Homo sapiens: one gene and its partners. The protein of the gene in region 2 interacts with the protein of the main gene of each other region in a biochemical or structural test. Each region holds a gene or a part of one and is shown on either strand. Other genes may lie near its edges.

Region 1 (3,786 bases), on a different chromosome or scaffold from region 2:
CATTCATTCCAATCTCCTCAGCACCTTGGCCAGGGCTGCTGATGAAAGCTAATTGGGCCTCAAAGTATCAAATGGTCTCTCCCGCCTTACTCTGTTATCATTCCACAATCACAAAAAGACAGCCTATTCATGCTCCTTCCTTTAGCACAGTGATTTTACCTGTCTGCGTCACTAGGAACATGCCCACGTATCACAATCAAAGTTCCAGGATCCAGCTGATCAGGAATGGTGCCAACAAACGGGATTACCTAAGAAAAAAAATTTAACAAATGTACGTTTACATAAACAAAATTACTTACTAAGCAATTACAACCCACACTCATTATTGATAGAGAAAAACTACACTTTTTAAGGCTGCACATAAATCTGCTCAGAATCCAGCATTTTCCAAGTCATCTTTCCTATTCAAACAGCTAGAAAAAGGAACTGCGGCCGGGCGCGGTGGCTCACGCCTGTAATCCCAGCACTTTGGGAGGCCGAGGCGGGAGGATCACGAGGTCAGCAGATCGAGACCATCCTGGCTAACACGGTGAAACCCCGTCTCTACTAAAAATACAAAAATTAGCCGGGTGTGGTGGTGGGCGCCTGTAGTCCCAGCTACTCGGGAGGCTGAGGCAGGAGAATGGCACGAACCTGGGAGGCGGAGCTTGCAGTGAGCCGAGATCGCGCCACTATGCTCCAGCCTGGGCGACAGAGCAAGGCTCCGTCTCAAAAAAAAAAAAAGGAACTGCATACCTCATGGCCAGGATATCTGCAATAGCTGCAAACCACTATGAGTTCTTTGGAAAGAGACACAAGGTAAATACTATTCATAGTATTTTGTATTTGGCTGAGAGTTTGTGAAGCAAAACTTCTGCTTAATATGATAATTCTAACAGAAAAAAAAAAAAAGACTTGTTGCAATGCCATGTCTACTCATTCCTTTTCCTACTGTTCCACTGCTGATCCCAACAGAAGGTTCGAGGCCACACTAGGCCCAAAGCCAATGCTGACGGAGACAATGACAAGCACTCACTGCCTCTGAAGGAAACTCCACGTTAAGCCACGCCCCCACACCTGGGATTCCAGGGCCTGCTCTTCTCTGCTGGACTCCCAGACTGCAACCCAGACTGCACTGTTAGAAACCAGAGAACTGCATGATCATGAGGATGAGTGGGTGCCTGTGGGTCTTCAAGACATGGCATCCACCTGCCGTGGACCAGTCCAGTCTGCAGGCGTGGACTCTGACAGCTGGCTCCACCCAGTATTCAGGTCTCAACCTGCACCCTCACTGCCCAGAACCCAGCCCTTTTTTTCTGGGACCTGCCACACTGCCAGATCTTGTCATTCCCCTTCCCCAGAGATGACTACACTGTCTTCCCAGTCCACTGGCTGGGGACCTGTGCTATGTGGCTGCCTCTCCTGCATCACAACCATCTGCCTCCATCTAGAGCATCTGACCAGGATGTACAGCCCACACACCGTTAAGCCTCACACTAAGCTCACTCAAATTACGATGTGCATGGTAAAACCTACCCAAGGTACTTCTGATTGTCAAGAAATAAGAAATAAAATAAGACGGGCCACAGAAAAGTGGTTATAAATTGGTGGCTCCTAAACCGAAATCGCCTTGAGGCACAGCCTCCTCTGTGGAGCCTTCTTCAAGCTCCCTGGGCTGCTGAGTCAGCCCCTCTCAGAGGGTTCATGATAGCACTTTGGATTCTGTTTGTTTGCATGTAGCTTTGCCTAGACTGTGAGCTGCATGGGGCAGAACTGGCTCATCACCTTTACCTCCCCAGGACACAGGTCAAGAGACGATCGGTAACTGCATGGTGAATGAATGAACTCTCACCTGTCTGGAAAGTGGGCTCTGGCAGGCCTCACACATACAGAGGAGAGGCAACAAAGCAGCTGCTGAACCGCAAGCTGAGCCCACAAGCTCTCTGTTGCCTTAGGCAATAAGATGAGAAATTACGGAAGCCAATTATCTATTTGTTGTCATGGCAATTGCTAGGAGCAGGGTGGGAGGCACATGACACCAGAAAACAAAAAATACAACAGACAGTGTAGACTGGGGCTACAGCTGCACATCAGAGTATCTGATTTTGTGTGTAGAGAATGGGGAAGGACCTACATCCCTACATTGATCTTTTGGGTCACAGCTGGTTCCAAGAATATATAGCAGCAGGTTTCATAGCGTTAATCTCTTAATAAAATGAGAAGTTTTTATAACATCAAATTTCATCTTAAAATTATCTTTATGCAGAATATTTAATAACACAAGTTAGTAATATAAGTGAGAAAGTAATCTATAGAGCCATATATAGTATGATCTCAACTAAATAAATATAAACATTAAAAAGAAAACCTTGCTAATACACACTGTATCCTGTATCAAAATATGCCATATACCCCATAAATAGATATACCTACTACATACTCAAAAAAATTAAAAATTAAAAAAAGAAAAAGAGAAACACTAAAGAAATCAGACAAAAATGATAACAATAGTTTTCATGGGGGATGATGGGATTTTAATTTTTTTCTTCATATATTTTCATACTTTGCAGATGTCTATAATAAGCATCGATATTTCTATAGCCAGAAAAATATTTTTAATTATATGTTTCATTTTAGTGTTGGAAAGAGCTTTTTGAGACAAAACAATCTATTCCCATCACTTTTTTTTTTTTTTTTTTTTTTTTGAGACAGAGTCTCACTCTGTCCCCCAGGCTAGAGTGCAGTGGCGTGATCTCAGCTCACTGCAACCTCTGCCTCCCGGGTTCAAGCGATTCTCCTGCCTCAGCCATCCAAGTAGCTGGGACTACAGGCATGTGCCACCATGCCCAGCTAATTTTTTGTACTTTTAGAGAGATGGGGTTTTGCCATGTTGGCCGGGCTGGTCTGGAACTCCTGGGCTCAAAGTGATCCTCCCAAAGTACTGGGGTTGCTTTGGGAGGTAATGAGCTTTGGGAGAAGCTACCGCACCCGGCCCCCATCACTTCTAATACCTTGTTCACAACTGTTTATAGGTTGTTCCAGTTTGAGAAACAACTATGCTAAGAACGGTGGCCACTTGCTGCTTTAGTTTTCTGGGTTCATCATGCCTTCTACTTCAGAAAAGATCCTGCATTACTTCAGTAATACTTTTTTTTTTTTTTAACTATGAGACACAGTGCCCTGCCGCTGACTCATTTAACCCACGACTATGTGGCTTCTGTGAAAACGGAGGACATACATTGTTTTCTAGGCTACTCCAAGCTACTTTGGTGATTCACAGATCATTATTAATTTACATTTAAAAAATTAAAATACAGATCTGATCACACTGGAGACAATACCACAAGCTTACGCCACAGTCAGGTTTGCTGTTATTTCCCAAAACACCCTTGCTGATTCATATTGCTTTGCCTTTTTGATGATTAAATGCAAGGCTCTCTATTAGGCAGACTGCAGCTTGAAAGAAGCCTAAGAGTCAGACACCCAGGAAACATAACAGACACCCAGGAAACATGGAGTGAAAATGTGATACTCTATTTGGCTGCTGAAAATTGGTATCCCTTTCCATATCTGAAAATCCCCTAGCTTATGAACATTAGACCTCATCTAGACTGCAACAAGGTAAGAGCAGGTGACAAAACTGCCCATTAGAACTTCCAGCTCAGCTTTTAAGTAAGAACCAGTGACAAGAAGAAGCCACAATGACGCAGTATTCACTCTGGCAAGGGGGCAGCCGCTATATCTGGGTTTGGAGAAAGCTACATCTGGGGTCAAAGGCAGCTACATCCGGGGTCAGGGGCAGCTATA
Region 2 (2,976 bases):
TTTTCTTGGACACGTCTACCTCCCAGTAATGTTTCCCTGATGTGATACTTTGAGAGCCCAGGATGCCAGTACAATAATTGAAATTCACAAATGTCTGGTATCTTGTCCCTCGTGCCCCATATATTATCTGTGGTTTCGGAGAGCTCACTTGTCTCTTATCTTCAGAAATGACAGCACATGAAATGTTGTTTGGAGCCACTGTCACATCAACTGTAGAAAAATTAACAGGTCAGCTAAGGGATATAATGTAACTTTATTTGTGATATGAGAGAAATCTTGATAAAGACTTGAGAGAAAACTGGGAGGAACCTTGTTTAGAAGTTATAAGGAGGGGTAAGTTATGTGTGTCTTGGAAGGAGAATCATAAATCTTAAAACATGAGCCTAATAGAGAACATAAAATTCTAAAAGATAAAGATAATAATAATGATAAGCCGCAGGGTGGCTTATGATAATGTGACTTCTCCTTACCCCAGTAGCGTCGGACATCTGTCAGCTCTGAAATGATAAAAATGCACAATATTGAATACAAACAAAGGAGTCAGCACTGAAATTCATTTTCTCTCCAGATTAGGGAAAGAGTAGGTATGCCCTATGGTAGGGCAGTAAATTGCTGAATGATGAGATGAAACAGCCACCTAGCCATTTCCCATTAAATATAATCCCATCAGCAGCAGACAATATCTATCCTCCCCTATCCCCTCTATCCATATTTGGAAACTGCACCCTCTTCCCTATTTAGCACCCTAACACCACTTGAATTCCATAACCCTGTTGTTGATCTAGCTCTCCTCACCTCTAAACACTTCTAGCATTCCTTTCAGATCAGGAGCTCGAAACACTCTCCTTTGATTTTTTGGAAAAGTTTCTGGCTTCTTCAAGGTCACGTTCTCCGTCCTAAGAATTAAAAAAAAAAAAAAAAACTTCCAAACCTTTGACCTTGTGTCCGTGGAACACCCCTGACTTCCTATCATTTCAACCCATTGAGGCACTTGAACTCTCTTCTTGGGGATCCTGAGAAGGGAGAGTGCAAACTCTTGACCCTGGAGGCAAACAAAATGTTCTCATGTTTGCCTTCCCACTTACTTTCTGTGAGAACGTGGGAAGATCTTAACCTCTCAGAAGCACAGTTTCTTCCTTCTAAAATGAAATAATTAACCTCTCCCTGTCTACATTCTTAAACTCATAGGACATAAAAAAAAAAAAAAGGATTTTAAAACAAAACAAAACAAAACTTTGGTGCCTTACAAAAGAAACCCTAACATTTAATGGGTGGAAACATCATCGCTATGTATGTTGAGTTCCCAGGGAGATGGTTAGAAAGTGAGGTTGCAGAACCTGGCTCCTGGGTGTTTGACACATATCAAGAGAGGAATCCTGTTTGGAGAGGCCTAAGACCTTCAAAGCTATTCCCAGCAGGGAGGTACTCAGATAACATCTAAGGTTTCAGATTTCCGGGAAAAATTACAAACACTTGGCAAATGAGAAATTATGTGCACTAAACTATTACTGGCCTGAATATCGTGTGGTTAGAAAGAACTTGATACCACCACGTAGGTGTGCGAGGTGTGCGATTTTAGACACAAGAATAGCACCTTTTTATGCTCTTGTAAAGAATGCAACTGAGGTGGATCAATTCTTTGTACCATGACCACATATTATCCAGAATATTATTTTGAAATATTATTCCGGAAATAAACATCTGATTTTGGAAATCTAAATATAAATGAAGAGGAACTGGTCTTTTTCCAGGAGGAAAATATAAACATGTGGGAATTGTCCCAATGGACAATTAGGGGTATATAAGAGAAAAAGAAGATATGGCCCATCCAAAATAAATCAAGAACCTATTAAATACAGAAAGAGAACTAGATGTAGGTAATAAAATGGTGATGGCGCAGGGGTCCAACACTGCAACACCTTCTCCCTGAAACCACTACTGACCCACACTCCGAGTCTCCACCACCCAAATTTTCTACCATAGAATCTGGTCTATTCCTTTTCTTTTTTTTAATTTTATTTAATTTTATTGATTTTTCTAAGACAGAGTCTCACTTTGTCGCCCAGACTGGAGTGCAGTGGCATGGTCTTGGCTCACTGCAACCTCTGCCTCCTGGATTCAAGCAATTCTCCTGCCTCAGCCTCCCGAATAGCTGGGATTACAGGCACGGGCCACCACGCCCCCCTAATTTTTGTATTTTTTTGATAGAGACAGGGTTTTGCCACGTTGGCCAGGCTAGTCTCAAACTCCTGATCTTCCTGACTCGGCGTCCCAAAGTGCTGGGATTATAGGCTTGAGCCACCACACCTGGCCAAATCTGGTCTATTCTTAATAGTTATAGAACATTCGAATGCTGATTTATGACCAGAAATTTATGATAAAACAATATCGAAATTTTTCTGCCCTGGGAGATGTTTTATTCTAATTAAACCCAGGACAATTCTAATGGCTATAAATCTCTCCTCACTGCACAAAAGGACCATCTCTGTCCTCCCACACATACCTTTTTATGACGCCATCCACACCCTAGGAAGAAGAGAGAAAACATCAATTAAGAAAGAAAGAGTCTCTCCTCACTTATAAAGCTTCATCACATTTCCCCCGGTTCCTAATGTGCTGAGAATGGAGATGGTGACAGTGTGAAAGACAAAAAAGCAAAGATAAGACTCAAGGCAATCATCCCAGAAGACTCATGTGAGATTTCCAAGTTCCCTTAAAAGTAGAAATAGCTTTCATCCCTGTGGAAGAGGCTCCTGGTTTCTGCAGATGGGACATGTTTAGAAGGAAAAGAAGTGACTGACAATTTGTTTTTCTCCAAACGTATATGGCTCTCCATGAAATGATTTAAATAATTAGTGCTTCTTTGATTTATTAAACAGATGTACAGCCTAGGCAACATAGCATGACCGCATCTCTACAAAAAATAAAATAAAAAAAAATTAGCCAAGCATGGTGGCATGAGCCTGTAGTTCCAAC
Region 3 (3,786 bases), on a different chromosome or scaffold from region 2:
CTCTCGAGATCTCTCTCTCTGAGTCTCTGTACCCTTCTCTCCTCTCTGGGTCTCTATCACTCTGTCTTCCTGTCAACTGATCTCTGTCTCCCTGCCATCCCCCATCTTCTCCCCTCCCTCTCCATCTGTGTCTCTCTTTGGGTTTCTGCCTCTTCTGAGACTCTCTCTTCTCTCTCTCATCTCTGTCTAACTCTAAAGTTGGGGGCTTCAATGGAGACTAATTATACAGTGGTCTGGCTGTCTCTCCGTTTCTGTATCTCCATCCCACTCCCTCAATCACTCTATTCCCTTTTCCCACCATCTTCTTCTGCCCTTTTCTGGGTTCCCTCTATCCTAACCCCTCCCATCAGCTGCTCTCTGGGGGCCACTAGGACCCTCAGATCATTCTCTGTCAGCTGTCATTGCCTTCCCTGCACCCCAGACTCACAACACAAAGGTCTCATTCCACACAGGGTTTAGCGTGGCTTTCACCGTTCGGGTCTTCTGTTTCGTCAGGTTCCGAGGGTCTGGGATGAGCTTCAGTTTCACATAGGGATCAGAGAGACCATTGGGGTCCATAGGAATTAGGTTACGGGCCTCGCCAACTAAACGGGGAGTGAGGAAGAGTGTGACGGGTTAGAGATCCAGGAAGGGGCTCCCAGCCCTCCTCCAGTCAGCAATCAAGAGTTCCAAGCTTGGCCAGGCACGGCGGCTCATGCCTGTAATCCCAGCACTTTGGGAGGCCAAGGCGGGCGGATCACAAGGTCAGGAGATCGAGACCATCCTGTGAATGGTGAAACCCCGTCTCCACTAAAAATACAAAAAAAAAAAAAAATTAGCTGGGCGTGGTGGCAGGTGTCTGTGGTCCCAGCTACTCAGGAGGCTGAGGCGGGAGAATGACGTGAACCCAGGAGTCGGAGCTTGCAGTGAGCCGAGATTACGCCACTGCACTCCAGCCTGGGCGTCACAGCGAGACTCCGTCTCAAAAAAAAAAAAAAAAGAATTCCAAGCTCTCAGTCTCGTTTCTCATGACTTCTTACCTCTCCAGAACCCAGAAGACAGGGCATAGAGCCCTTTCCGCAACCAGTGACCCTGAAATCAGATCCAGAGCCCTTCTCTCCATTAGGAACCAGAGTTTGGACCCTGGCCATGTCACCAGTACTGAACCACAGCCTCCCTCAGAACCAGGTACTCTCCCTTCTCAAGATCCTTATACCCAGAAAGCCATTGCCGGGCACGGTCCTCACCCCTGTAATCCCAGCACTTTGGGAGGCGGAGGCGGGCGGATCACCTGAGGTCAGGAGTTCCAGACCAGCCTGGCTAGCATGGTGAAACCCTGTCTCTACTAAAAATACAAAAATGAGCTGGGTGCAGTGTCATGCACCTGTAGTCCCAGCTACTCAGGAGGCTGAAGCAGGAGAATCGCTTGAACCTGAGAGGCGGAGGTTGCAGTGAGCTGAGATCATGCTACTGCACTCCAGCCTGGGCAACAGAGCGAGATCTTGTCTCAAAAAAAAAAAAAAAAAAAAATTAGCCGGATGTGGTGGCAGGCGCCTGTAATTCCAGCTACTCGGGAGGCTGAGGCAGGAGAATCCCTTGAACCCCGGAGGCAGAGATTGCAGTGAGCCAAGATTGCACCACTGCACTCCAGCCTGGGTGACAGAGCAAGACTCCATCTCAAAAAAATAAACATAAAATAAAAACAAAAAAGAAAGCCATTGGCCAGGCGCGGTGGCTCACGCCTGTTAATCCCAGCACTTTGGGAGGCCGAGTCGAGGGGATCACCTGGGGTCAGGAGTTCGAGACCAGCCTGGCTAACATGGTGAAACCCCGTTTGTACTAAAAATACAAAAAATTAGCCGGGCTTGGTGACACGCGCCTGTAATCCCAGCTACTCGGGAGGCTGAGGCAGGAGAATCACTTGAACCCGGGAGGCGGAAGTTGCAGTGAGCCGAGATCGCGCCATTGCACTCCAGCTTGAGCAACAAGAGCGAAACTCCGTCCCAAAAAAAAAAAGAAAGTCAAAGTCATTAACAGGTGCAGAAAGTTGCAAGAAGCCAGGTTGGAGGCGGGGCTTCGAGCCAAAAGGGGTATGGCTGGGTGTGCTCGGCCTTTGGGGTGGGGTCAGGAGTGTGGGCGTGACCATAGAAAGAGGCGTGGCCCCATCTTTGGGGTAGGGCTGGGCCAGCACAAGTGCCTTGGGTCAGCCCCGCCTCACACTTGGGGAGGGGGCGGGGCCAGGCGAGGGGGCGGGGCCTCACCAGTTACGTGGATCTCATCTGCTGTGGGAGCCCGGATCTCCAGCTGCAGGCGCCCGCGGCGCTCGGTGTGGTCCACACCGCACAGGGAGGGCACGCTACGCACACAGCGCCGGTGCACGTTCATCTCGCAGCCTGGAGGGGAAAGCTGCGGGTAGCACCTCAGGCCCCGCCCCCAAGCCAAGACTCCACCCCCCACCCCATCCCGGGCATTTCCCGGAACCCAGACCGGGCGCTTTGGAAGGGCCCTGGCAAGGCCCAGGTCACTCACAGGAGCATTTCATGCCCTGGTGCACAAGCCCGTAGAGGAGGGAGCCACAGTGGTCGCAGAAGGTGGGGCTGCTGTAGCTATGCAGGCGGAACTTGTGTTTGTTCCGGGGGTCCTGGGGGCAGAGAAGACTGGCTTAGGGGGCGTTGGGAGGGTCCTAAAACCCCAGGGGAGGGGCCCTTTTATCTTTTCCTCCTGCCTTGCTCTCTAGGTCAGCCTGAGGCTCCATCTCTTTCACTCTATGTACCAATAATCATTGAGCACCTGCTGTGTGCCAGGGACTGTTCTTGGTGTGGGGACCCAGCATTAAACAAATGAAAAAAAAAAACCTCTTTGTCACATGGAGTTTACTTCCTAATGGAGGGATACAGAATGTAAACATGGTAAATAAATAAAACATATAGTTTGATGGTTGGTAATGGGTGCTCTGGAGAAAAAATGAGGCAGGGATGGGGACCACCAGAAGTTGGGGGATTGAAATTTTAAATACGGTGGTCCTGGCTGGGTGCGGTGGCTCATGCCTGTAATCCCAGCACTTTGGGAGGCCGAGGTGGGCGGATTGCCTTGAGCTCAGGAGTTCCGGACCAGGCTAGGCAACATGGCAAAACTCTGTCTCTACTAAAAATACAAAAATTAGCCGGACATGGTGGTGCATGCCTGTAATCCCAGCTACTCAGGAGGCTGAGGCATGAGAATTGCTTGAATCCAGGAGGCCGAGGTTGCAGTGAGCCAAGATTGTGCCACTGCACTCCAGCCTGGATGACAGAGCAAGATTCTGTCTCAAACAACAACAACAACAACAAAACTGTGTGCAGGGGGAGTGGCAGGGGGGCCTCGCTGACCAAATGATATCTGGGCAGAACATGAAGGAGGCAGGAGCTTCCAACCTCCCATAGTTCCCATCCCCCCAACTCCCACAAGTTATTATTTGAGGACTTGTGGGCCACCCTGAACCCCAGCTCCTTCACTGGCAGCTTCTGTCAGTGTCCATATGGTATGCCTTCTCTGAGCTCCAGGTGGAATGGAGAACATGACCTCTCAGTTATAATAGGAACCCAGGAGGCCTAAATAAAATAATTGGTGTACAAAACATAGCTGTGCCTACCACGTTAGATGCTCCCAATACTATTACTGTGGTTATTGTTAGGGATTTTATTGAAGTCCCTACATAGCCCTGAATGTAAGTAAGAGCTAGGCCGCTTCTCAGCTGTGTGATTTGGGGCAAGTTCATTCCCAGTTTTGAGCCTCAGCATCCTCCTCTGTCAAGTGGAAATAAATAAT
Region 4 (3,786 bases), on a different chromosome or scaffold from region 2:
GTTCGGACTCTGGCACCAACCAGCTATGGAACCCTGGGCAAGTGAACCTCTCTGGTGCCCTAAGGTAGAGAAATGTCTAAAAATCACTCCAGCCAAATATTCGGCTCTTCCTTTCTAGCAGTTTAAAAATATTTATAATTATAGATTTTAAAAAATAAAGTTATATAATTTTTAGATGCCAACTGAAACTATACAGAACTATATATATACATAACTCTATATAACTCTATGACACAGCACATAAAACTTACAAAGCATCATATAGAACAATGTCTCATAGTTCATATGTCTCAGGGTTCACTTATTTTTTAAACAGATTTATTCACATCTGTAATACAATTATTTCTTTGTTTTGAATACAACCTGGAGGGAAGCATATGGGAGACACAGCCTTTATTTAAAAAAATGAAGTAATGATATGGAATGATTGACAGTTGGATAGAATTTTCATTGTCGGCACTTCTACTTCTTTATATGACCCTGCACCTTTCACAGTGCTAATATTTGTTTAAGGTTGCTTAACGTTGTTCCTCTCCTCTAGAACTTTGGAAGTAAAAGCCATTCTCATCTTTAGAAACAGTAGATTCAATAATAATAAATAATAATAAACTAGAAGCCTGAGTTTCTGTTCCTACCTGTCAGTCAATGCCTAAATAATTTCATTTTCACCCATTCACCCATTCATTACATGAAAGGGGCTGGGATAAGAGAGAACACTCCTGAAGGGGAGGACTACTTTTTCTCCTCCTTTTAGTTCCTACCCACTCTTGCATGGGTTTTATACACATATGTGGTTTCAGATTTTATGAATTCTATACTTTCAAAGTGGGTGAATGTCAAGTTCAGCTGTGACTGTTACCGAGCTGGATGAAGCTGCCCAGATGCAGCCTGCAGATGGTGTGGAATGAGGGGCTCAGTGCACAGAGTTCAAAGTGCAAACAGAAGCTGTGTAAGAAAGTGCAGCAAACTGTGGTTGGTGTTAAAACTGCTCCTGAAAAAAATGGCACTCAAACCAATGTATCTTAGTTGACCTAAACTCTCTTTTGCACATTCTGGGGCAGTAATAAGAAACAAACATTGATAGCTATACATATTATAAAATTTTGCACAGTAAAAGGGGAAGTGCTTCTCTCTTGAGCAATGAGTGCCACTCTGACATTTTTTGTCTCCCTTAAAAAACTCACCTAGGATGGGCCGGGTGCAGTGGCTCATACCTGTAATCCCAGCATTTTGGGAGGCTGAGGCGGGCAGATCACGAGGTCGGGAGATCGAAACCATCCTGGCCAACATGGTGAAAACCTGTCTCTACTAAAAATACAAAAATTAGCCGGGCGTGGTGGCACACACCTGTAATCCCAGCTACTCAGGAGGCTGAGGCAGGAGAATGGCTGAACGTGGGAGGCGGAGATTGCAGTGAGCTGAGATGGGGCCACTGCACTCCAGCCTGGTGACAGAGCTAGTAGACTCCATCCAAAAAAAAAAAAAAAAAAAAAAACCAACAACAAAAACTCACCCACAATGGAATGTGACTATGGAATACCCTGCGGTGTGTTCAGAGCTCTGACTTCTGTTTGCTCTTTTTAACATAACCCCCATCTGGCAAGCTGACTGCTGCAAGATTTTCTGGGTCTTTCTTTAGGATCTACTAACAATGAAAAACATATATATGAAAACCTACACATTTTCAGAAGCACATGAGAGCTGATCAAGACCCACGTACCTCCCAAGGAGAGGAGATGACAGAGGCTGCTCTGTGGTGTTGCTCTCAGGCTATATTTGATTTATTGCTCAAATCTTATTATTTCATTCTCCATTCGAGACTAGCAAAGTTTCTTTTGAGAAGTCACAGTCTCTACGGAGGGTATTCTAACGCCCAGAAGTAAAAGTTGGATGTTGGCAAAGAAAGCAAAGTAGAATCTTTGCAAAATGTTGGAGCTGCATAGTTCTCTCTCCCAATGGACATGTTTCAAGACTGAATACGTTGAGTATTTGATTTAGAATCAATTTAACATGAACTTCGCATTTATGCAAAGCAGCATCAGTCCTGAGATCAGCAGAGCGATTGAGCAAGCCCAACTAGCAAACTGAGATTTCTATTTGTGATGACCTTTCCCATTTGAGGCCCCAAAAATGTCTTGGGGAACTCATTGTTTAAAAAGAAGTCCATCAAAAAATGGACACATATGGACCATGGCATGGGAGGGCAGTGCTGCATACAAAATCAACAATTCTCTAAATGAACACCGATCTTGCAGAAAAACAAAATGAAAGCAAAACAAAAAGAAATTTCTAATTTCAAGAGAAAAACTGAATAACAACTTTCTTTTCATTCATCCTTTCTTTCTTCTTTTTCTTTCTTTCTTTTTTTTTTTTTTTTTAACGAAGCAATGACTTTCTCAGGGAGAAAGATTTGCATCCATGCTGAGGAAATAGACAGGGCCAGTAATCACACAGCAACAATCATCTGTAACTTGCAGAAATTCAATGTATGAATAAGTGTTTAAAGCCTAGATAGAGGGCAATTATCTGGTTATCTGTTTTTCATATTTCTATCAGAGATAAAAACCTCTTTAGGGAAATTTATGAAGGGCCATTTGAAAGAAGGTTTCCCTCTTTTGTAGAAAAGAATTCTCTTAAAAATTAAAACAAATTTGGGAGGCTGGGGGATTTTTGAGAGTTTAAAAGAGTGAGGAAGATGGGGGGCGGGAAGCAACTATTTCCAGCTGCGAGAAACCGATCAACCTCACAGCAAGGTGTGGTGGCTCTGATGCAAGCAACATTCCCATAGATACAGGGCTGTCTGGTTTTCTATTGCTCATTCTAACTTGAGGAGACGCTCAAGTGTGATTTGGGGCTTTGACACTGAAAATAGGTGTGAACTTGGATCCATTTAACCTAGCCCCTTCCCCCACCTCATCCCTTCTCCTGTCCAGTTTGCTTTCAATGGGTCAACAATAAATATTCACCCTTGGCATCCATCTGCAACTTCCAAGAGGGAATGAAGGAAGAACATAAAGTTTCTCTGCATTTGTTTCCAAAGCCCAGCTGGCACAGAAAACAAATGATACAAGATATGACTGGGAAGGCACACAGCCTGTCTTTGTCACCAGGTCTGGCAGATGTGGCTCTGGGTTCACGAGACATCTGCTCCCAGCTACCTTCCTCTCTGCTTCCCTCCACTCTCCAGGCTGGAAAGTGACAACTCCATTGTCCTCAGTTCCCTCCAGCCAGAGGCCTGTGACCTAGTTGTGGCCTAAGCAATATGTCAGCGAAAGTTTGCAGAGAAGGGCTTCCCTTCCTGAATAAAAATACCAGGACCCACAAGAAGGGGTTGAGGCCTCCCATGTCCTTTCTGCCTGGACAGATCAGAGGTGCAGGCCATCTCTCCCTGGCCTCAGCATGGTGGGACCAAAACATAGGAGTGTCCTGCACCCCACCGTATCAGCCTGGACTGCTCACTCTGGAACTCCTGCCCGTCTGCTCAAGCCACTGTGGTCAGCTTTTCTCTACGTGCAGCCAAACATAATTTTCATGGGTAAACCTGAGCAAGGGCCTTACTCTTTCTGTCACTGCAATAAAATACATAATTTCCGTCATGTTTCGGATTTAGTGTTTATTCCTCCACCTTGGCTCCTTTCTGGCATCATTACTCAGTGTTATTGCAAGATGAGGGAGGGAGAGAAAGAGAGAGATTCAGAGAGCCAAGAGAGTATAACACGTGTCTCCCCAACAAAGAGTGAAGCCTGCGCAAGTGAGAGCAGTGTGTCTGAGCTTATCCTCCCAGCA
Region 5 (3,786 bases), on a different chromosome or scaffold from region 2:
GTGCAAAGAGATCCAAATGTGACCCATACTTACACTCCTCTAATATTAAGAATCCTGTGTTCTTTAATCTAAAGAATATAGAGGTGTCTTTCCTTCTGATTCTGTCTATTTAGTTATGCATCTTACTTTCCTGAGTCAATTTCACTTCCCAGTTTATTCGCTATATAAAACTGAAGTGTTTTTGACAGCCATGTTAAAGAACTTTTAAATCTAATGAAACATGTATTTAATAGTTTAAGTGATAGTTTAATAGGATATATCTAATTTGGTGTTTGTTTGTTTTTGTTTTTTGAGACAGGGTCTCATTATATTGCCCAGGCTGGAGTACAGTGGCACAATCTCAGCTCACTGCAACCTCAGCCTCCTGGGCTCAACCTCAGCTCACTGCAACCTCAGCATCCTGGGCTCAACCAATCCTCCCAGCTCAGCCTCCCAAGTAGCTAGCACTACAAGCGTGCGCTACCATACCTGGCTACTTTTTCTATTTTTAGTAGAGATGAGGTTTCGCCATGTTGCCCAGGCTGGTCTCAACTCCTGACCTGCAGTGATCCAGCCCGCCTCAGCCTCCCAAAGTGCTAGGATTGCAGGCGTGGGCCACTGTGCCTGACCAAAAAGTTTTAAATTTTATAGGTAACATTTTTGTGCAGAATTTTAAATATGAAAATAAAGTATGTTAAGAAATCTAAACATAACACATGTGAATTTAGGATTTTAAAGTGATCAGAATGGCTCTAGTAGTGTTAAGCTATCTTGGTTGTGGAACATATTTGAATATTTAAATAATTATTAAACATGCTTTTAGGCCAGGTGCAGTGGGTCACACCTGTAATCTCAGCACTTTAGGAGGCTGGGGGGGCGGCAGATCACCTGAGGTCGGGAGTTCGAGACCAGCCTGACCAACATGGTGAAACCCCGTCTCTACTAAAAATACAAAATTAGCCAGGCGTGGTGGTGCATGCCTGTAATCCCAGCTACTCAGGAGGCTGAGGCAGGAGAATCGCTTGAACCCGGGAGGCAGAGGTTGCGGTGAGCCAAGATTGTGCCATTGCACTCCAGCCTGGGCAACAAGAGCAAAACTCCATCTCAAAAAAAAAAAAAAAAAGATGCTTTTAAAACAATTTTAATTGCCCATATAGCATGGTAAATACTGCAAGGAATAAAATTCCAAGTGTTATTAGAAACCTTCAAAACAGGAAGACAGCATGAGTCCTTGAGCTATAAAGAATATAAAGCTACAAACTTCAAGAAGTACATTAACAGAGACAAGTGAACAACAGCACAGGAGGGTCACTCCCTAAAGACCTACTGTCTCCCACTGCACCAACATTCCTCTGAAAAAATAATCTCTTAATTACAAGGAATGTGTAAGGCATGTGTCAGTAAAATGTATTAGATATCTACTGTATGGTCCCAGAGATTATGCCAAGTTAAAGGAAAGTAAAAGATGAGTTTGGAACTTCTTACTGTGCCAGAAAGTAAGGAAGTGTTCAAGAAGGTGGTGGACACTAAACCTAAGGGGAATATTTGATGAGAAAGGGGATATTCGCATAGTTTCAAAGTGTGTCCCCTCAAATTACTTAATTGTAACAGGAAAAACAGTTAACTACAAAGTAAAAAAAAAAAAAAAAAAAAAGAGACAACACTTAAACTAAGTGATCAAAGCCTGGGCACATAGGGAGACTCCATCTCTACAAAAAATTTAAAAGCAGAGCATGGTGGCACATGCCTGTAATCCCAGCTATTCAGGAGGCTGATAGTGATAGGATTGCTAGAGCCCAGGCATTTGTGGCTGCAGTGAGCTATGACTGCATTCTAGTAGTCATACTAGAAAAACATAATATTTTTTTTTTTTTGAGACAGGGGACTCCTCGCTCTGTTATCCAGGCTCGTCTCGAACTTTTGGGCTCACTCAAGTGATCCTCCCGCTTCAGCCTCCCAAGCAGCTAGGACTATAGGCGTGCACCACCAATCCCAGCTATCAAATGCTGCACAATGTTATTTTATTTTATTTACTTTATTTTTGAGACAGGTTCTCACTCTGTCACCTAGGCTGGAGCACAGTGACATGACCAGGGCTCACTGCAGCCTCGACCTCCTGGGCTCAAGTGATCCTTCCACCTCAGCCCCCCAAGTAGCTGGGACTACAAACATGCACCACTAAGCCTAGTTAATTCTTTTTTTCTTTTTTTTTGAGACAGAGTCTCGCTCTGTTGCCCAGGCTGGAGTGCAGTGGCGTAATCTCGGCTCACTGCAACCTCTGCCTCCCGGGTTCAAGCGATTCTTCTGCCTCAGACTCCCGAGTAGCTGGGACTACAGGCACATGCCACCACGCCCGGCTAATTTTTGTATTTTTAGTAGAGACGGGGTTTCACCATACTGGCCAGGCTGGTCTCGAACTCCTGACCTCGTGATCCGCCCACCTCGGCCTCCCAAAGTGCTGGGATTACAGGCATAAGCCACTGCACCTGGCCAAATTTTTTTATTTTTAGTAGAGACGGGTTTTCGTCATGTTGCCCAGGCTGGTCTTGAACTCCAGGACTCAAGCAATCCACCCACTTTGGCCTCCCAAAGTGCTAGGATTACAAGTATGAGCCACCGTGCCTGGCCCACATGCTGTGCAATTTTAATTGGTGAATCTAAGGAATAGTTATACAGGAGAGTATTACACTATTCTCACAATTCAGTAAGTTTGAAATATTTTCAAAATAAAAAGTTAATAACCCTATATTGTTCCCACTATCAGAAATATCAGTAATGTTACTCTGTGTATGAAGGGAATCTATGTATATAGATACACACACACATACACACACACACACACTACTTTGAGATATCTCTATAGAGGGAAGATGGGTGGAATATAAAAGCAAAGCAAACTGCTCATAGAATAAAAAAATCAAATGAAGACAGAGAAGCATAAAAAAATAGGGTAAAACAAGATGACAGAGCCAAATATATTAATATACACTATGCTTCTGTATTAACATTCTCAAAATAGGTCAAAAATGAAAATCCAGCCATTAATGTTACCATCACCATGAAAGTATACCAGAAATTTACCAAATTTGAGGAACATTTGTCTATCTTCAAAAAGGATGTAGCATGTGACCTATGACAATTTCAGTACTCATTTTGTTTCTACCACCCTTTTTATTGGCACTTTTAAAGGCACTATAGGGGAAGTTCAACCCAAAACATTATTTCTTCTCTCCAACAAATGATATGCCATTTAAATCAGAGAATATTCAAGAAAAGGGCAGTTTTAACACCAGTGAACCAAACTGCTCAAAGGAGAATTTAAATTTTTTCTTGACTCAGGAGAAAAGTATACTCACTTCTTTTGGAGTATGATTATCAGCAATTCTCTGACCCTCAAAGAGAAACCTGAGTGAATTCATTGGAACACCCTAAAAAGGTAAAGATAATAATAATGCATACATACACACACAAATATTAGAAAACATAATGGTAACTTTGATGCACAAAAAGCAAGCATGAAAGCCTTAGAACACTACATAGAAAATAAAATTAGACAAGCTAATTCAATCATAAATACTATATACTGTACTGAGTAGCAACTATTTGCAAGGCCCTCCCTGTACCAATTCTTTACATACATAATCATAAGTGTTAAACACAACAACCCTGGAAGGTAGGTATTACCACCTTATCTTCATGTTACAGCTAGGGAACCTAAGGCTTGGAGCTAGCCAAGAATTTAAGCCCAAACCTGTTTCTAAGCCTATGCTCTTGACCACTACTCGATTCACTTTGCCCTAAATCTGT
Region 6 (3,786 bases), on a different chromosome or scaffold from region 2:
GTGCACACAGTGACTACCGTAAATATTTGTCCATTACTTAACACTTCAAAAAGCATTCCTAAATAGCTAATTCTGCATTAGTTTAATTCTATTTTAGGTCAGTCTATTAAGCAGTTCTACAATAGTAAGGTTCAGTACCTATAAAGGAATAATTTAAAATTCATATTTATATAATATACCAAAAAAGTGGCTTATTTTCTTGCTGCATGCGTTTGCCATAACTGTAATGTTCTTCATAGTATCTTCATATTCTTTATAAAAAAGGAAGTCAACTAACCTAATTTCATTCTAATAGAGACATAGCAGTAACTGCTGGTAAGTATGTACTTATTTGGAAAGTGACTTACTCAAAATTACACAGTAACTGAGTAGTGAAACTAAGCTCTGAAATCTGTTGATGCTGTGAAGGTGTAAGTAATGAACACAGTTTGGCATCACAGAGAAATCATTGGTGTAATTATGTAACTTTTCAGTCAAGAATTAAGCATTTACTAAACTACTTTATAGTTTTTATAGCTAAAGAAAAGAAGAAATATTCCTGAGTTTATAACACAAGGTTACTTTATGTATCATATTTTAAAAAGAAGTTCTCATGTGTATACTTGTGTACTGAGTAAAATTATAATTGTAAATTTTTACTGTTCAAAGATAATCCTTTTTTTTTTTCCTTTTTTTTTTTTTTGTTTTAGCTGGAGTCTCACTCTGTCGCCCAGGCTGGAGTCCAGTGGCATGATCTCCGCTCACTGCAAGGCGCCTCCGCCTCCTGGGCCCAAGGGATTCTCCTGCCTCAGCCTCTCAAATAACTGGGATTACAGATGCGCTCTACCACGCCTGGCTAATTTTTTTTGTATTTTTAGTAGAGACTAGGTTTCACCATGTTGGCCGGGCTGGTCTCGATCTCCTGACCTCAGGTGATCCACTCACCTCAGCCTCCCAAAGTGCTGGGATTACAGGCTTGAGCCACCATGCTGGCCTATTTTCTAACTTTTAATTATGTTGTAACCCTTCCATACTGACATCAACAAACAGACGTCGTATCTAACTGTCAAGGCAACATGACTACTACAACAGTAATGTCTGTAAGAGTCCATGTTCCATCTCTCTCAATCACTATAGCCAATTACTTGAGCAAAGAGCAGTGGGCTGGGGGCAATGGCTCATCCTGTAATAATCCCAGCACTTTAGGAGGCCAAGGTGGGCCGATGGCTGAGTCCTGGAGTTCAAGGCCAACTTGAGCAACAGGGAAAAAACCCATCTCTACAAAAAATAAAAAAATTAGCCAGGCATGGTGGCGTGTCTATAGTCCCAGCTGCTTGGGAGTCTGAAGTGGGAGGATCACCCGAGCCTGGGAGGACAAGGGTGCAGTGAGCCAAGACCACGTCACTGCACTCTAGCCTGGGTGACAGAGTGAGACCCTGTCTCAGAGAGAAAAAATTTTAAAAGCTGTGAATAATCCAAAATAATGCATTATTTCTAAGTCTGAAAATAAGCACACATTCATACTTTATCTCCTGTTATTAAATCTCAACCTCCTTCCATCCCTACAAATTGACAGTTAACAGTCTAAGACCCAGCTAGGTAAGAGAGGAAGTAAATGCAGAAATTTCACAAGGGTAATTCAACTGACCATTTCTCTCAATTATATCACTGTTTTTAGAGTTGACAAACATCAACTACTATGCACTGACTTTCTAAGATCTTAAGACACAACGTAACAGGAGGTTTTATCTAAAATTAACAATTCTAGAATGTCAAATTAGAAAATTAGACAGCATATATGTTAAAATTGCTAACTTACGAGAAGTCTGAATGAAGCAGTTAAATTCTAAAATCAGAAATTATATCCAGGAGGTCAAGTACTTCATAACATTAAATAATACATAGGAAAGAAAAAAGGTTATAAAATTTAAAAACACGGCCGGGCGCGGTGGCTGACGCCTGTAATCCCAGCACTTTGGGAGGCCGAGGCGGGCGGATCACGAGGTCAGGAGATGGAGACCATCCTGGCTAACACAGTGAAACCCCGTCTCTACTAAAAATACAAAAAATAAGCCGGGCGAGGTGGCAGGCGCCTGTAGTCCCAGCTACGCGGGAGACTGAGGCAGGAGAACGGCATGAAGCCCGGGGATTGGAGCCTGCAGTGAGCCGAGATCGCACCACTGCACTCCAGCCTGGGCGACAGCGAGACTCTGTCTCAAAAAAATAAAATAAAATAAAATTTTAAAAAAGCATTTAACAACAACAACAAAAAATTCAATTTTAGGATTCACCTGAGAAAAGAATACCTCAATACTGCTACACTTTCAAAAATGTTTAGAATCACATAAAAATTCACTTCAATAAAAGAATGCTTCTGCAGTTTGGGGATAAAAGTTTCTACCAAATAATCAGTCCCTAAAACGCTAAAACTAAAAATTTGCTACAAGAAACTTTTCATGTAATATTTAAAGATTTTTAGAATTACCAAAATTAAATGTAGATCTGTTTAACTCCTATCAATTTTAGGTATCACCACAAATATAACATTCTCTTAATGATGGTTTCTTAAGACTGGGCACATAGGCTCACGCCTGTAATGCCAGGATTTGGGGAGGCCAAGGCAGGTGACTGCTTGAGCCCAGGAGTTCCAGACCAGCCTGGGCAACATAGTGAAACCTGTCTCTACAAAATACAAAAACCTGTAGTCACAGCTACTCAGGAGGCTGAGATGGAAAAGATCACTTGAGCCCAGGGAGGTTGAAACTGCAGCAAGCCGAGACAGCGCCACTGCACTCCAGCCTGGGTGACACAGTGAGACCCTGTCTCCAAAAAAGAAAAGGTTTCTTAAAACATAATTTAACTGTAATCTTACTTGGTGATACATTACTTTTTTCTAGGAAGAAACAATAGGAAGGAAAAGAAAAAAAGAAAATGAGTAAAGAATGTCTCAAAGGGATCACATAAGTCTGAAAACCACTATCTTGAATTGTATATGGCAGAACTCTAGCAATATTAGGGAGTAGAGCGTCCCCAGCATTTACAGGTGTGCCAGAATATTGATCTCCCATCCCGGGAGTTTCATGAGGTGCTGCCTGCCAGGTGCTTCTAGCCTCCCAATCTCATCTACTTTAGTGTACTATTCAAAACTTACTTTCTATGTGGGCAGAACCTAAAAGATGGTTGAGACGCACTGACAGAATACATTAAAGCAGTTACTAGCTCAACTTTAAAATACATACTCTCCAATAAGAAATTCAAAGTCTACCCTTACTTGTTTTACTCATTACCAAGTAATGAAATCCCATGTTACATTTGTATAATATGGCATTTTAAAAAAAATACAGTTCCTCTTAGAGCTTAAGTAACTTCAGCAGCAGCAGCAACATCCTGGTGTGGGTTAGATAAATCTACTAAAAGCTTTTTGGGTTAAGGACATGGTCATTCCATGTTACAGCTTATTTTTTCCTAATCGAAATCCCCAAATGATCAATTTCCTAGTCTTCTTCCATGCTTTTTCTCCACTGCACTATCACCTTCTAATATAATAACACACTTGGCCGCGTGCAGTGGCTCACACCTGTAATCCTAGTACTTTGGGAGGCCGAGGCGAGTGGATCGCCTGAGGTCAGGAGTTCAAGACCAGCCTGGCCAACATGGCAAAACCCAGTCTCCACTAAAAACACAAAAAAAATTACCTGGGCGTGGTGGCCAGCGCCTGTAATCCCAGCTACTCAGGAGACTGAGTAGGAGAATTGCTAGAACCCTGGGAGCGGAGGTTGCAGTGAGCCAAGATGGCATCACTGCACT

The links.
Region 1: the proteins of TRIM5 (region 2) and LGALS8 form a complex in vitro, tested with the Homo sapiens proteins (one study listed by BioGRID).
Region 3: the proteins of TRIM5 (region 2) and PRKCG form a complex in vitro, tested with the Homo sapiens proteins (one large-scale study listed by BioGRID).
Region 4: the proteins of TRIM5 (region 2) and RUNX1 form a complex in vitro, tested with the Homo sapiens proteins (one study listed by BioGRID).
Region 5: the proteins of TRIM5 (region 2) and SUMO1 form a complex in vitro, tested with the Homo sapiens proteins (one study listed by BioGRID).
Region 6: the proteins of TRIM5 (region 2) and UBE2W form a complex in vitro, tested with the Homo sapiens proteins (one study listed by BioGRID).

The regions. Positions count from the first base shown.
Region 1 is NC_000001.11:236,533,959-236,537,744, reverse strand, and holds part of LGALS8 (galectin-8), read right to left. Parts: intron 249-3,786; coding exon 160-248; intron 1-159.
Region 2 is NC_000011.10:5,665,186-5,668,161, forward strand, and holds part of TRIM5 (tripartite motif-containing protein 5), read right to left. Parts: intron 2,915-2,976; coding exon of another isoform or gene 2,714-2,914; exon of another isoform or gene 2,533-2,713; intron 2,527-2,532; coding exon 2,504-2,526; intron 897-2,503; coding exon 796-896; intron 498-795; coding exon 471-497; coding exon of another isoform or gene 322-470; exon of another isoform or gene 211-321; coding exon 1-210.
Region 3 is NC_000019.10:53,888,472-53,892,257, reverse strand, and holds part of PRKCG (protein kinase C gamma type), read right to left. Parts: intron 2,621-3,786; coding exon 2,509-2,620; intron 2,373-2,508; coding exon 2,241-2,372; intron 585-2,240; coding exon 428-584; intron 1-427. UniProt on the Homo sapiens protein: Calcium-activated, phospholipid- and diacylglycerol (DAG)-dependent serine/threonine-protein kinase that plays diverse roles in neuronal cells and eye tissues, such as regulation of the neuronal receptors GRIA4/GLUR4 and GRIN1/NMDAR1, modulation of receptors and neuronal functions related to sensitivity to opiates, pain and alcohol, mediation of synaptic function and cell survival after ischemia, and inhibition of gap junction activity after oxidative stress.
Region 4 is NC_000021.9:35,039,300-35,043,085, forward strand, and holds part of RUNX1 (runt-related transcription factor 1), read right to left. Parts: intron 128-3,786; exon of another isoform or gene 1-127.
Region 5 is NC_000002.12:202,207,400-202,211,185, forward strand, and holds part of SUMO1 (small ubiquitin-related modifier 1 isoform a precursor), read right to left. Parts: intron 3,408-3,786; coding exon 3,336-3,407; intron 604-3,335; coding exon of another isoform or gene 469-603; intron 1-468. UniProt on the Homo sapiens protein: Ubiquitin-like protein that can be covalently attached to proteins as a monomer or a lysine-linked polymer.
Region 6 is NC_000008.11:73,872,234-73,876,019, forward strand, and holds part of UBE2W (ubiquitin-conjugating enzyme E2 W), read right to left. Parts: intron 1-3,786. UniProt on the Homo sapiens protein: Accepts ubiquitin from the E1 complex and catalyzes its covalent attachment to other proteins.